2 separate regions of the Homo sapiens genome follow, and region 2 is linked to region 1. The links come from fine-mapping of genetic effects on gene expression. Tissue or cell type: whole blood. Region 1 holds a variant in brackets; the other region holds the start of a gene. All regions are shown on one strand. Distances are between the middles of the regions.

Evidence for each region. PIP is the estimated chance that this variant, and not a neighbour inherited with it, causes the effect.
Region 2: GTF2H1 starts here. The variant in region 1 is fine-mapped to the expression of GTF2H1 in whole blood (INTERVAL, PIP 0.98).

What each region holds. Positions count from the first base shown.
Region 1 is chr11:18,345,614-18,353,613 of GRCh38, forward strand. GTF2H1 (general transcription factor IIH subunit 1) reads left to right here. Exons shown (of 15, transcript NM_005316.4): 8 at 1,975-2,102; 9 at 2,219-2,306; 10 at 6,268-6,356; 11 at 6,716-6,833. LOC105376577 (a long non-coding RNA gene) reads left to right here and starts at 3,504. Exons shown (of 2, transcript XR_007062611.1): 1 at 3,504-4,874; 2 at 4,982-6,266. The variant C/A (reference allele first, on the strand shown) is at 3,579.
Region 2 is chr11:18,317,654-18,325,653 of GRCh38, forward strand. GTF2H1 (general transcription factor IIH subunit 1) reads left to right here and starts at 4,914. Exons shown (of 15, transcript NM_005316.4): 1 at 4,914-5,087. HPS5 (HPS5 biogenesis of lysosomal organelles complex 2 subunit 2) reads right to left here and starts at 4,487. Exons shown (of 23, transcript NM_181507.2): 1 at 4,293-4,487; 2 at 98-254. The coding sequence starts at 205. RefSeq lists enhancers at 3,985-4,934, 4,072-5,271, 4,162-4,461, 4,472-4,891.

The DNA.
Region 1 (8,000 bases):
TCAGCTTCCTGAGTAGGTGGGATCATAGGCACACACCACGCCCAGCTAATTTTTGTATTTTTAGTACAGGGTTTCACCACGACCAGACTGGTCTTGAATTCCCAACCTCAGGTGACCCACCCACCTCAGCCTCCCAAAGTGGTGGGATTACAGGCGTGAGCCACCACACCCAGCACATATGAGTTTTTTTTTTTTTGAGACGGAGTCTTGCTGTCACCCAGGCTAGAGTGCAGTAGCACCATCTCGGCTCACTGCAGGCTCTGCCCCCTGGGGTTCATGCCATTCTCCTGCCTCAGCCTCCTGAGTAGCTGGGACTACAGGCGTCCGCCACCTCGCCCGGCTAATTTTTTGTATTTTTAGTACGGAAAGGATTTCACCGTGTTAGCCAGGATGGCCTCGATCTCCTGACCTCATGATCCACCCGCCTCAGCCTCCCAAAGTGTTGGGATTACAGGCGTAAGCCACCACGCCTGGCCCATATGAGTCTCATGATCTTTCTTTCACCTTTTTAGCCTCACCAATTCCTGGACCACCGTTATTAGTGTATTGAACCATATACAGTCTCATGACACAATATGTACTACATTGCTGCTTTGCTTGTGTTTTGTTTTATTTTTAAATAGAGACAAGGTCTCACTGTGTTGCCAGGCTGGACTTGAACTCTTCGGCTCAACAGTTCTTCTGCCTCAACCTCCCAAATAATCAGGACCACAGTGCCTCTTTGCCTTTGTTTAAGCAGTTTCCTCTCCCTGAAATGTTATTGTCTCCGATCTACTTGGCAAGCACCAGTTTATCTTATGGTTCTCTGTGAACCTTTTTCGAACCCTCTTCTCCAGTAGGATTGATTAGTAATTCTCTCCAGCCCAGCTTCCCACTAACTAGTATTTAAGCTCCTATGGCATGGGGTCTTAATCAATTTTGTATCTACATGGTCTAGCAAGTAGCGTGCACTCAATACATGTTTTAAAATATAATCTCATTTTATTCTCTTTTATCCTACTTTATAGAGCTTGGAAAAGTTTATCTTGCCTAGATTAACGTTAGAAAAAGAATTTGACTCTTTATCTTTCTGAATCCATAGTCAGTGTTTTTCTCACTATATTCTATTCTTTTTATTTACTTTTTTTTTTTTTTTTTTTTTTGAGACAGTCTCACTCTGTCACCCAGGCTGGAGTGCAGTGGTGCAATCTCAGCTCACTGCCACCTCTGCCTCCTGGGTTCAAGTGATTCTCCTGCCTCACTCAGCCTCCCCAACAGCTGGGATTACAGGTGTGTGCCACCATACCTGGCTAATTTTTGTATTTTTGATAGAGATGAGGTTTCACCATGTTGGCCGGGCTAGTTTTGAACTCCTGACCTCAGGTGACTCGCCCACCTTGGCCTCCCAGAGTGCTGGGATTACAGGTATCCTGACTCTATTGCTTTTATTTAACGTTTTGATAACTAGATCCAAATTGTTCTTTAAAAGAGAAATGCAGACCACGCACGGTGGCTCACACCTGTAATCCCAGCACTTTGGGAGGCCAAGGTGGGCGGATCACTTGAGGTCAGGAGTTCAAGACCAGTCTGACCAGCATGGTGAAACCCCATCTCTACTAAAAATACAAAATATTAGCCGGGCGTGGTGGCAGGCGCCTGTAATCCCAGCTTCTCAGGAGGCTGAGGCAAGAGAATCACTTGAATGCAGGAGGCGAAGGTTGCACTCCAGCCTGAGCAACAGAGCGGGACTCCATCTCAAAAACAGAGAGAAATTCAGTTTAAGATGTATTTTGTAATGCTAAAACGAGTTAGTGCTATTTGTTAATCTTTTATGTGCATAATGTCACTTGTTTTTAAATGTTTGTTCATAAATATTTAATGTTCGTGAGAAGTAATAAAAGTCCCATCATCCAGCAAATTTTTTCAGCTAAGCGTGTCTTATAATAAGAAAAGCAGAACCTTTTTAAAAAATTTTTAATCTATTATTTCTCACAGGGCTATGGCATTTCCTCTGTGCCATCTGCTTCCAATTCTAAATCCATAAAAGAGAATAGTAATGCTGCCATCATCAAGAGATTTAACCATCACAGTGCCATGGTCCTGGCAGCTGGACTCAGAAAACAGTTAAGTATAAATGCAGAGGTGCAGTAACTGGGCTTTTCAGGATATCCAGATGGAGTTGTGGTGTTGTTTTGCTTGTGGTTTTTAACGTTAACTTTTTTTTCCCCTTTATTTTAAGAGAAGCACAAAATGAACAAACTAGTGAGCCCAGCAACATGGATGGAAATTCCGGAGATGCAGACTGCTTTCAGCCAGCAGTCAAAAGGGTATGGGCAAAAAAATATGAACCATTTGGGGCTCAAGTTTCTCCAAATACTTTATGTGACTGCAAGTACTGTATACGCTTATTTCCTGTGACTCAGTTCTTCTAACTAAGATGTTAAGCATTTGGCTTAAAGTGTATAGCATTACAAAGAGTATTTCCCCAGCTTTGGCTTGCCAGCCAACTTTCCATTGACTCTAGCCTGTTAGCCATTTTTATTGTTTTTTGTTTGTTTGTTTGTTTGTTTTCCTCACATGTACACATACATACAGATTGTTCTTATATGTGATTTTGTTCTCTGGGAATAAAATCTTCATTCAACAGAGGCAATATGACAGAAAAACCGAAGTTTCATGTATATGATTTTTCAAAGAAAGTGAATTGGCCCTCATGTTAAACCTAGCATTTCAGAGCTGAAAGTGTCTTCTCATTAAATATTGAAGAAATCATTTGAGGGTGTGGAGAAGGATGGACAGAATTAGCTGCTTGTGTATTTATTCTTCTCCTGCAACTTTGCCACGCTATTTTGTACCTCCCTTCCTAATTATGATAAAGCTTTCTTAGAGAGCAGTCAGGCAATGTGTATTAAATGTTTAAAGCTTTACACCCTTAGTTCTACTTGTGGACATTTATTTCTTAAGAAAGATGTATACTAAGATTTAGATAGAAATATTCATTACAGTATCATAATAAAGACAGTAGCAAGGATTCTGTTATCTGTGTTGCATTAATACAATAGAGATTGATGCAACTGTTCATTATTTTGAAAGCATTAATGATAATATTGCATCAAAGAGTTCACTGAACAGATTGTACAGTACAGTTTTACACACAAAAAAAATAGTTTGTGAGCTTTAAAAGGGCCTTCAAATGAATATGCTAAACGGTTATCTTTCAATAAAGAGAGTATGGGTAAGTCTTAATTTCTTTCATTTATTTCAGTAATTTAATGTTTTTGTTGTTGTTATTGTTTGTTTTTTTGAGACAGAGTCTTGCTCTGTCACCCAGGCTGGAGTGCAGTGGTGCAATCTCAGCTCACTGCAATCTCGGCTCACTGCAACGTCTGCCTCCTGGATTCAAGCAATTCTTCTGCCTCAGCCTCCGGAGTAGCTGGGATTACAGGCGTGCACCACCATACCTAGCTAATTTTTGTATTTTTAGTAGAGACGGAGTTTTGCCATATTGGCCAGGCTGGTGTTGAACTCCTGGCCTCATGTGATCCGCCCATCTCAGCCTCCCAAAGTGCTGGGGTTACAGGCATGAGCCACTGTGCCAG[C/A]CTATTTCAGTAACTTAATGTTTTTACAGGCATGTATTACCTATAAAATTAATAAAGCCAGTGAGGTATTTCTTTTTTGAACTAAAGCAAAGCTAATAATAAGTTATAGAGAAGTTAGAGAAGAAATCTATTAAGTGATACTTTCTTTGTATACTGTTGGGCTGAGTACCCTTGATTCTTGGTGGTGAACAAGTTATCAGAAATTTCTTGGCCAGGAGCCGTGGCTCACACCTGTAGTCCCAGCACTTTGGGAGTCCAAGGTGGGTGGATCACTTGAGGTCAGAATTTCTAGATCAGCCTGGCCAGCATGGTGAAACCCTGTCTCTATTAAAAATACAGAAATTAGCCAGGCATGGTGACGTGCGCCTGTAATTCCAGCTACCTGGGAGGCTGAGGCAGCAAAATCACTTGAACCTGGCAGGCGGAGTTCGCAGTGAGCTGGGATCGCGTCGCTGCACTCCAGCCTGGATGACAGAGCAAGACTCCATCTCAAAGAAAAAATAAAAAAGAAATTTATTTACTTGTGTGAATTTTTACAATACAGATGCTTCTCGACTTAAATGGGGCTACATCCCAATAAACTCATAAGTTGCAAATACTGTAAATCAAAAATGCATTGAATACACCTAATGTATGGAACACCATAGTTTAGCCTATCCTACTTTAAATGTGTTCCGAACACTTAGATTAGCCTGTAGTTGGGCAGCATTACCTACTATAAAGTGTATTTTCTAATAAAATGTTGAATATCTCATGTAACTCATTGAATACTGAAAGTGAAAAACAATGTATGGGTACTCAAAATATGGTTTCTCTACTGAATGTGAATCACTTTGACACCATCATAAAGTTGAAAAATTCCAAGTCAAACCATTGTAAGTCAGGGGCTATCAGTATTCAGTGGTAAATGCTGGCTCTAACTATTCTTCCAAGTCAGTGGTTGACTGCTGTTTATTCTATAAAGGGTTACAATTTATAGATTCTCTCACTTGTAGAATGAGAGATTCAGAATTAATAGCAGACAGAGTCCCTACCTTGATGGAGCTTTCATTTAAGTGTGAAAGTCAGGTGACCTAACAAGGCCTTGGCATAAGTTTAGGATTTGGATTGTTATGGGAGCTTGGGTAGGGACATGTCATAGGTAAGGCAACAGCAGGGGTAGAGATAAGCTTGACATATGTCAAAAATCATGAAGACATCAGTAATCCTTGAAGTTGGCTGAAAGGTATAGAGTTGAGAAAGTAGTTAAAAAAAAAAAAGTCAGGCTGAGTCTAGGTAAGGATGTGTTTCTCTGAGGTCAGATTTGTTCCTGTACCATAAAGGGACTATTTAGAATCTTAAAGCTGGAGCAATTTAAAACGTTAAGTTTTCAGATTGAGGTCAGATTTGTGACTTCATGTGAGGTCAGATTTGTTCCTGTACCATAAAGGGACTATTTAGAATCTTAAAGCTGGAGCAATTTAAAACGTTAAGTTTTCAGATTGACGTTTTTTGAGGTATAGTTAATAACCTGAATGTTCTGATTCTAGTCTTGGTAGTCAATAAGAGTTGACCAGATGAATTTCATAGCTTTGTAGAGGATGAAATATTTCAAGGCTGATTTGCACAAATGTTTACATAGATCATGTATCTTTCATAAGTAATATGTTTGTATTATTACAAGGCTGTAAAAATTTAAGCAGGTTGTTAATAGCACAGGGGGTAACAGATTAATAAAATTAATGAATAAAATTACTAAAAGAGTCCAGAAGTAAACCCAAATACGTGGAGGAATTAAGCATATGTATGATACACATGACATTTTAAAAATCAGTGGGAAAAGGTAAATTATTTTACAAATGGTGTTAGAAGCACTGATTGATAATTTTGTTAAAAGAAACTTAGATTCCCTATTTTACTCCTAATCCAAAATAAATTCTGAGTGGATCTAAGATTAAGCAAAAATTAAGCCGGAAGCTGAGCATGGTAGCATGTGTCTGTAATCTCCGCAATTTAGGAGACTGAGTTTGGCTGGGGAGGTGGTGATATGCGCCTAGAAAAAAAAAATTTTTTAAGCCACAGATGTATAAGCAAAAAGCGGGCAAAGAGGCGGAATTTTTTTTTTTTTTTTTGATGAAGTCTCACTTGTCGCCCAGGCTGGAACGCAGTGGCGTGATCTCAGCTCACTGCAACCTCTGCCTCCCGGGTTCAAGCGATTCTCCTGCCTCAGCCTCCCAAGTAGCTGGGATTACAGGCACCTGCCGAGGAGAGGATTTTTTTATAATTAAAACAAAACAAAACAAAAAAACACCAAACTGGAAGATAAAGTATTTACAACATGTAAAAGACTGTTTCCTTAATATTTAAAAGTCTTATTTTTTAAAAAGTACCCAATATAAAAATAGTGGAGAGCATAACAGATCATTCATTTGGGGAAAAAATAATAAAATGTAAACTTTCACCTACCAGATTGGCAAAAGTAAAAAGTTCAATAATACTTCATGTGGTCAGAGTGTAAGAAAACTAGTATTCTTAAGTAGTTGTTGAGAAAATTGGTTCAGCCATTTGTAGGACAGTCATCTCTAGGAAGAGAAGCTCATGGTGGGAAGACTTCATTTTTTACCCTCTGTACAGTTTTGTTTTTTCAGTCATGTTTATTGTGTAAGAGAAAGTTGTGACAAAATAAAAAGTACTGTGTTAATAATTATAGGCGAAATTACAAGAGTCCATTGAATATGAAGACTTGGGGAAAAATAATTCTGTAAAAACGATTGCACTAAACCTCAAGAAGTCAGATAGGTAAGTTTGGTCAATATTAAGCAGAATAGCTATGTAACAATTCAGTCCAAAATATATCCTACAAGTATAGCACTCATGTTTTAATCAGTTCGTCACCATCAAAGTACAATATCCTTTTCTGTTTAAAATTTAGGCTTCTCAGGAAGCAAAAATGATCAAACCCATGACAATAAATGTGGATCTTTCTGCTGTTGCTTTCTTATTGCCCTTATGGGAATTAAATTATTTTATTGAAATCTCTTTACTTATCGTTTCTTGCCTTGAGGGGAACTTAGTACTGACTGCTAAAATGTTGCAAAGACAAATGTTGAGCATCTTTACTGTGTGTGATTAGTAATTTCTTCTGTGCTAACCTGCAGGTATTATCATGGTCCAACTCCAATCCAGTCACTACAGTATGCAACAAGTCAGGACATTATTAATTCTTTTCAAAGTATTAGACAAGAAATGGAAGCTTATACACCCAAGTTAACTCAGGTAGGTGACTTCTACTGTTTGAAGGCCAGAATTCCCATAGTTCCTTCCTCAGTTTATGAGCACAAGCAGATTGAACCATACAACTAATATTTTAATTGGGCTTAAAGACATAGTTCTGCTAAATAAATTGAAAAAATCAAGAGGTAGCAAGAAAAGGTGTTTGGCATATTCAAGAGGCATCTGAAGATAAGATGATAATGAAAAAAAATAAGTTGATGAATTTTGTGATTTTTACTTCCATATACTTTTATTGGGAAAATCTCCCAGGTTTCCAAATTCTGTCTGGACATTATTCTCTGAATATTCTGCATGACTCAGGCTTAAAATATGTAAAACAGCTCATCATTGTTCTTTGTTTCTCTTCGTACTTCAGTTGATCAGCAATTTGTCAGTTCTGCCTTCAATAATACTTCTTGATTCTATCACCCTTATTTAGGCAAACCTGATTGATTTTCCATAATGCTACTGCAAGTTGTCTTTCTAAAATCACTTATTTTGGCCGGGCACAGTGGCTCACGCCTGTAATCCCAATACTTTGGGAGGCCGAGGTGGGTGGATCACGTGAGGTCAGAAGTTCGAGACCAGCCTGACCAACATGGTGAAACCCGTCTGTACTAAAAATTTAAAAATTAACTGGGCGTGGTGGCACACACCTGTAATCCCAGCTACTCAAGACGCTGAGGCAGGAGAATCACTTGAACCTGGAAGGCAGAGGTTACAGTGAGCTGACACCGCGCCATTGCACTCCAGCCTGGGCGACAAGAGCGAAGCTCCATCTCAAATAGATAGATAAATATTTAAATATTTAAAAATAAAAACATGTATTTTATCACTGCGGCTTGAAAACCTTCACTGCCTCCCTTCACTGCAGTAGTCTGAGTGCCTTTGTCTGGCCTGCAAAACTCTTTATAGTCTGGCCCCAGCCCACTACTCGAGTCTCATCTTCAGCGATAGTCTCCGCTACTCCCTTCCACACATGGCCAAGGGTTCCAGCCTAACACACTAAGCTGTCCAGAATCTTTTGATCACATTATCTCCTTCATGCTTCCTGTGCTTCGGCTTATGCTCTTTCTCTTTAGAATTCCCTTAGCCCTGTTTCTCCCCCAAGGAACTAATAATTACTCAAGACTCAGCTCCAGTTTCATTGCCTCTGGAAAGTAATCCTTA
Region 2 (8,000 bases), 28 kb before region 1:
ACCCAAGATTCCACAAAACGTTAAGGAACTGGAGGGTAGGGGCACAGTAACAGAGAGCACGTGAAAATGAAACTGATACAAGGATCAAGAAATTCACCTTTAGACGACTGGAGTCCAGCCGCAGGGCTGAGAGTAATGGATCCAGAGATTCAAACTCTGCAAGAACATGGCTGTAGGACTCTGGTATCACTGGCACAAAAGCCATTTAGCCAGAAAGCTGAAACTTGTTGAATGATAGATACAGTATTCCTCACCTGAATAAAATCCACAAAAATATAATTTAAGAAGCCCACCATTCATTTAACATGCATTTAACAAATATGTGGGGAACATAGAGAAACATGAGAAAGTCCCCACTATACAGGGACTTAGAAAGAAAACACATAAGGTAACATCGTATGCCACAGTGTGTTTACATTGTGTCATTCCCTGACTCTAAAACTCCCAGAGTAGCAGGTACGGATTCTCAGGGCCCTCCATAAGCCTATCCCCCTGTATTATCTAACAGTGTGAGTAAACAGAATAGGTAGAGTAGGATTTAGGAAAATTGGCATATCACCCTGAGTTAAAACAGCAACCTTGCTGCTGCATTTCTATGAATACTAAATCTTCTGTCTTTAGGAGTCTCTCATTAAAACGCAATCTTCTGTAAAGGCCTCAACTTATTAACTGTTATCAGCAAACCCTACAGTTATCAGCTAACAATTTAACAGTGGTTTATAGGAATAGGCCACTAGACTTCTCTCTTCAACCGAGCAGGGGCTTAGTAAGTATGGTGAATGAATGAACAGATCTACTAAGTGAGAAGGTACAGGGAATTAGAGCACAAAGAAAAATAAGCGCTTCAACAAAAGAGACTAGATAGGACAGAATACGGATAAGAATACAAGGTAACAAATGCCAAATAACCAGTGAGGACTTTGTAAAGTAACACGAAAGTTTTTATGTGTTCACCTACTCTCAAATGCACTTTTTTGTCAACTTGCACCAATCTCCAGAAAAAAAGAAAAGAAAATTCTACTCATTAATTATAACTTTTCTCAATCACTTGTTACCTGCCAAATTTAGAAAGCCAATGAATACAACAGAAAAAGTCATGAACTGTTTATACATTCTTGTTGTTTGTTCATGCTTTACGTTTTTGACTTTTTTTCCAGAAACATATATATTCCATCACTCATTTATTCAACAAATTTGTACTGAGCACCCACCTACGTGCCAGACATTATTCTAGGTCCTGGAGATGATAAAGTTCTAACCCTCATAGAGCATACTTTCTAGTGGCAAAACGAAGACTATATTTTTTATTGCACACACATAACACAATCTTATTTTCTGCTAGTAACACTGTTCCTAATACACCTTGACCTCTGCAAGGAGAATGTTCAGGAAAAAAAAAAAGAAAAAACCCAGAAAGAAACTTTCACATGCCTGTACTCAAAATATTTGAGAATTATTGACCTAAGAAAATCTTCCCTCATTGTTTTCACTCATTCATTTCATTGAGTACCTAGTAAAGTACCAGGCACAGTGGTAAAAATAAGACAAGTAAAATAATTCCAGAAGTCAGTCAGTTTATAATACGGAGGAAAAGACAAATACCACACACACACACACACACACACACACACACACACACACATCTTATAAGGGAAACATAAGCAAACTGCTTTGTTAGAACTTTACAGGACAGAGGGATCACATTGAATTAAAGGGAACTGAAGAAAACGCTCTAAGGAAAGTAGTACTGATGCTGACTAGGCTTTTATCTCAAGGAAAAGGGAAAGGGTAGCAGGTAGGGTAGCAATAAGCAAATATATAGAGAAGAAAAAAATGCAGAATATACTAGAAGAATACAAATTTAGTCTTTGGTTGAAACAGGATACAAGCAACGGAATAATGAAAGATAAAGCTGGAATCTTAATTTGGGCCCAAGTTACAAAACACTTTGAATTTCAAACCAAAGAACCTGAACTTAACTTGGCAGGCAACAGAAAGGAATTGAAGAATTGTGTGTTGGGAGGTCACACAATTTCTGTAAAGTGCTGTGGGTGGTTAGATGCTAGAAAACAAAGACTTGAGAAAACGGGTGGGTGATATGAAAATGAGGATAAAACATTTCAATTACTCAAGAAGTCTGGTGGAAAAGGAGAAAACCTCTCTTGACGTTATTATTGGGGAGACTCTTCAACAGATTTGTAGGTAGTAGCTAAAAGTAGAGTCTAGAACGAAAGGGACTGAAGATTCAAGAAAAAGATAAAACCATGGTACAGGATCCAAGAGATGGAAAGGAATGATAATATCATAGTGTCTCTTCTACTTGTGATCTTGAAACAAAGAAACTCTGAGTAGGTCATTTTGCCTTAATCTCGGTAAAAAGAGAATGTCCTGGAAGTTATAATATAATGCGGGGGTGTGCAGGGGGACACACCTAGTAAGTTCTACTGAAAAGAAAAAAAGAATTTAACAGAAATGAGAATGGAAAATAAAAACAGCATAAGCAATGCCAATTCTCAGAGAAGCTGCTGAATGACAGTGTTAAACCAACTTCAACTTTATACTTTATGTTTACTCTCCCTGAAATGACTGCTTCCCTTCCAGATTTTCTTATCCAAACATACCCAGCTTTCAAGATCGCACATGAGCCCTACTTCCTAGAATTCTCAAGATGGAAAAAGATTCATAGGTAATTCAGTGAACATGTCCACCTAATTCAGAAATTAGTTTTGCCCTAGATCCCTGAACATTTTCAGCCATGGAAAGAAAGCACTCACTCTCATGAAGCTGCCAATTCCAGTCCTCCAAAGGGCTCACTATTATAAGGTTCTTTTTAATACTATGCTGAAGCCTGATCACTTAGAGCTCTACCATTATTCCTAATTGTATGTAGCTTCTACAGCTGAAGGGAACAAGCTGTCTCTTTCCAAAACAATCCTTCTGTATTTGAAAAGCATTATCAGGTCTTCTAAAAATTTAACATTCCCAGTTTCTTCATCACTCCTGACATGACATTTTCCAACCCTCTGTTCCAGTCAACCTTCTACAGAGGCACTGTAGTTTGCCTAAAAATGAGGTGCCTAGAACTGAGCATAATACTCCTTAAGTAGTTAGATGAGCCCAGAATAGAGTAGAAACACTAACTTCCTGGATCTAGACACTAAGTTTCTATATTACAACCTAAAAACAGTATTAGTTGTGTTTAAGTGGCCATGTTACACATTGATTCAACAGAGCAAGTGGTCAACTAAAACCCAAAGAAATTGTTTACATAAATAAAATCTTCTTAGCCAGTAGCTACATACAGTAGAACTGAGCTCAAATTGAAAGCTGCTATTAATCAAATGCAACAATGGATATAAAAAGTACCTAGAAATGTACAAACAGTATAAAGAGGAACAGCAGAATGCTGATAATTGTTCAAGTTGCGTTAAGTGTACATGAGGGTTCAATTTATTATCCTACTTTTGTCTGCGTTTGAAATTTTCCACAATAAAATTTAAAAAATATATACATAATATTGTACAAGCCTTCAACAGCTCTATTTCTTGAAAATCTGTTATCTCCTCCCTGCTTCTTTTTCCAGCCTTATTTCCCATCTTAACCTCTCTATTCTCCAACTACATTGGACTCGACTCTTTTTTTCTTTTTCATTCCATAAACTTGCTGTGCCTCCATGGTTTAATATATGATGTTTATGGAATCTTCCCCCATTTACCAAAACCCTACCTTTCTGCAAAGCTGAGTTTAAATGTTACTTCTGTGAAGGCACTCTACCAAAAACTAAGAACATAGAAGTTGGCGACAAATGCTTAACCAAAGTAAATGAAACAACTTTTGGGAGACTGGCTTGCCCAAGGATCACAGAGTTCATAAATGGTAGAGCTGAGATTAGAATACGCGTCTCCTGAATCCAAATCTCATCTTTCCATTATCGTAAAATAGTTCAGTGTTTGTTGCTCACACATCAAATGCAAACATGTTTCTCTTTTGCCCCAGTAGGTGCGTGGAGGAAGAGGAGAAAGAAGTAAGAAAGATAGCAAAAATTGAAGAAATGAGAAGGGGAAGTTGCAGACTGCCTCATTTTCACAATGGGATCTTTCTATCCAAGAAGAAATGATCAGAAAACAACTCTCTGCCTCAGACAAATGGCGACTGACTCATTTATACATTCATTCATTCAACATTCTGAGTGCCTACTATGTTCCAGGACCTGAACACACCGCTAGAGACACAGGGATGAACAAAACACAATCCCTACCCACAAAAAGCTCCTTGCCTAGTGGAACTACTACCTTTTTAACAGCAGTAACTTTAATATCTTGAGATTTCTTGAGAGGAGACCCAGTAACCAATTTTCAAAGCCAGGCTCACAGACCAGCAGCCCGGAGGTCCCAGCCCAGCTCCACCACATCCAGGGCAGTACCTCGCAGCTCTCAGTAGATCGGATCTTGTCTCCCGGCTTAGCGCCGGGGAACTCACCGCGCACTAAGAGCGGAACGTGAACTTCAGTCTCCCCTCGCGTTCCTCCCCTTCCTTGCTGACGTCATCCAGGAGAGCCGCAGACTGGAAACAACGCTACTAACGGCACTTCCTCATCACGTGACGAGTCACGCCCCTCCTTCCGCGTGGTCCCTCCCCCTCAGGCCGCGGTCGCGATTACGCTCTCTACGGCCTGCGACCGCAGGGCCGTTGCGGGCTGGAGACACGGCGCCGACTGGAACCGGAGGAGCTCTAGGCCAAATGGTTGGGCCAGCCAGGATCCCAGGACCCTTCGCCGCTCGAGACCGGAGAGAGGAAACGAAACAGGCGGGAACCCGTGGGGGAGGGAGGGAACTAGCGGAAGGTGTCATGGCGGCCGCGCTCTTGAGTCACGTGCCCAGGGCCCGCCTTGCTACTTCCGGTCACGTGCCCTCAGACTCCTCGCAGCCAGCGATGGAGGCGAGACCCCCTAGTAACAGAGGCGGTGGCTACTGCTGCGGCCACTGGGTTTCGGCCTCTTCCCAGCAGCGGCTCTAAGAAGCGCAGCGGAACTCGACCGGATCCAACCCAGTTAGTTACTTCCTGTCTAGAGTTGTAGCTTCCACCTGGTAAGTTTAGACCGAAGAATGCAGGCGGGCGGGTGGGTGGGCGGGTGAGGAGCTGACAGGCCTGGGGGCCGCTGGACGGCGTGGATTCTACCCCTGTTCCCAGCGTCGCTGTCGCCGTCCTCCCAACGCCCAAGCCTGGCGTCTTGTTTGCCCTTATCCCGAGGCGAGGAAGAGGCGACCCCTAATCTACTTGTCTAAAGGAAACCTGCTCTTAAATTGAGAGCAGGTTTACCCAAAGCCAGGATCAGATTTGGCTTATGAGAATGAAGTGGAGGCCTCTCCCAGACAGAGAAGCCCTTCCCGTCAGGAAATGTGCTGTTGAGTCTGGGATTCTGTAAGAGAAAAGCTGTCACCTTGTTGTCTGCACACCTTTTGCTTCCACCTGTCAATCTTACCTCTCTTAAAAACCTTAACACGTGCCAGTCCACACACTCCTAGTTTTGGTCATTTGATTGTCGTGTAATGATGAAAAATAGACCATGAGTACCTGGATATATGTAATTATTTTGTAAATCCCCCAGTGTTCTCAAAGGCCAAATTAAATAAGGAGGTGACTTTTCTTATTTTTTTTTAAGAGACAGAGTCTTGTTCTGTCGTCCTGGCTGGAATGCAGTGGCGTGATAATAGCTCACTGTAACCTCGAATTCCTGGGCTCAAGCGATTCTCCTGCCTAGACCTCCCAAAGCGCCAGAATTATGCTACAGTGCCTGGCCCCAAATGACTCCTAAACTCCAATTTTAGCATCAGTAAAATGGGGATGGGGAAAGAAGATATGAAAAATACACCCTTTGTCCATTTGAAGACCCAGTCTTAAAAACAAAAACAAAAAAAAAACTGAGTGGTTTGAATGAAATGTGCTTTGCAGTGAGTATTGACTCCATACAAACCAATATCCAGACTTGTGATTTTCAAACATTTTAAAGGAGTGGAACAATTTCTCCCCATGAATTTTTATCTGGAACCCAATATATAAAGCAGCATGCTCTGGTGGAACTAAATTTAAAAGGGCCAGGCCCCACCACCCCACTTAACTTCTATCCTAGAGGCCACTCCTTGGAACACAGTTTGAAAACCACTGAACTGGACTTAGGTAATTAAGCCAAAGTTGCCAACCTTAAGATTTTTTAAAAGACAAAACCAGAGCAGTTGAGATGGAGAGGTCACAACCGCAGGGAAGGTAACCTCTAGTAGCAGGCCTTGGACTTAGAGAAGGACTAAACTCTGGAGAGAACTTTGTACCTGTTAGCAGGCTTAAGTCCCTCATTCAGAAAGGAGAAAAAAGAGATGGTCTGCTATCCTCACTCAGCCGACATTTTTTTTTTTTTTTGAGACGGAGTTTTGCTCTTGTTGCCCAGGCTGGAGTGCAATGGCGCGATCTCTGCTCACTGCAACCTCCATCTACCGGGTTCAAGGGCTTCTCCTGCCTCAGCCTCCCCAGCGGCTGGGATCACAGGCGCACGCCACCATGCCTGGCTAATTTTTGTATTTTTGGTAGAGACGGGGTTTCACCATGTTGACCAGGCCATTCAGCCGACTTGTAGCAGTGCAACAGATTGGTAAGTTTGAGTCTCTCTTAGGTGATATAAAATACACATTGCAGTACAAATGTGAAAAAAAATCAAAGCAAATTCAGAGAGGGCTTTTGAAAAATACTAGGAAACTTGGTGCAGTGTGGGAGAAGAATCAGTTAAAAGTAGTGAAGCCAGCGACCAGCACCAGTCCTGGGTTGTGAATGCTTCCTGTGTGTACTGCCCTCAAGGCTTGTAACTTCTCCCTGCTGGTACCATGTGTCCTGCCCTCTGATAACCTGCTTCTCTGTGCTATTTTATTCCCTACCATCAGAATGTTGTCTGGCATACCTTGAGCTTTCCTAGCATTTTGGCCACCATTTATCTCTGCCTTATGCATACTGCTGATAGAGATGTCTTTGTGCCCTTCCTTTCTCTTTCCTGCCTTCAGTGTGGCAGTATCAGCCATTGACCTAGTAGTTCCTCTTTTCACCACTTTGATTACCAACTGATTACTCTTCTCTCAATTTTGGTAATATACTCTTGTCAGCATGCAGTATTTATTAATGGATATGAGCATATTTTCTTCTGTCATGCATCTCTGTCGCATTTTCCTCCTGCCTCTTCCCTGCACTGCTGTAAAATGTACAAGTGCTCAGTCCTAAAATTGCCACATCAGTTATTCTCCTTAATATCTTCCTTGTCTGTGAAATTATCCTTAAAACAGTACATTTTGGTCACTCTTTACATACTTATAAAGTTATTCCCTTTAATGCTGAATTGTTCAAACACTTTTGGATTGCTTGATGGCAAGCAGCATTCCAAATCTCCATTTTTGTATGCTGGCAGATATAACAGTGCTCTCTAGTAATCCTTCTTTCAGAAGATTTCTCTTTCACTTGTTGCTCCCTATCTCCTCTCCTCCATTTATCTCTTGCACATTGGAAAAGGGGATGTAGGTAATGGAAATGCAGAGGTGCAGTAATGTAAAGATTTGTATTCAACCAGTTCATATTCTTCCTTATCACTGTTGCCTTTTAAGAGCAAGATCCAGTTATTAGAATCTGTATGAGAAATGGTACATTGATCTGTGAATTGAAAACTATAGTGGTTCCCGGAGTTTAGGCAAAGATGTATATGCAAAGATTCCTTATTATGTCTTAGCAAGAGATTGTATTCTTTTAACAGCAAGATCTTAAATGATGTCATTGATACTTCTTGGACTCTTCTTATAGGCCAAACACTATATTACTGGGTGCTATATTACAGAGAACCCGACATATATGGCCTCTGCCCTCCCTTATGAAGCTTGCAATCTGTCAGGAGACGTGTACATTAAAAGAATCACATTAAAAATTATGTTGTTGTAAGTGCCATGAAGAAAATAATAGGAGACTTTAGCTGG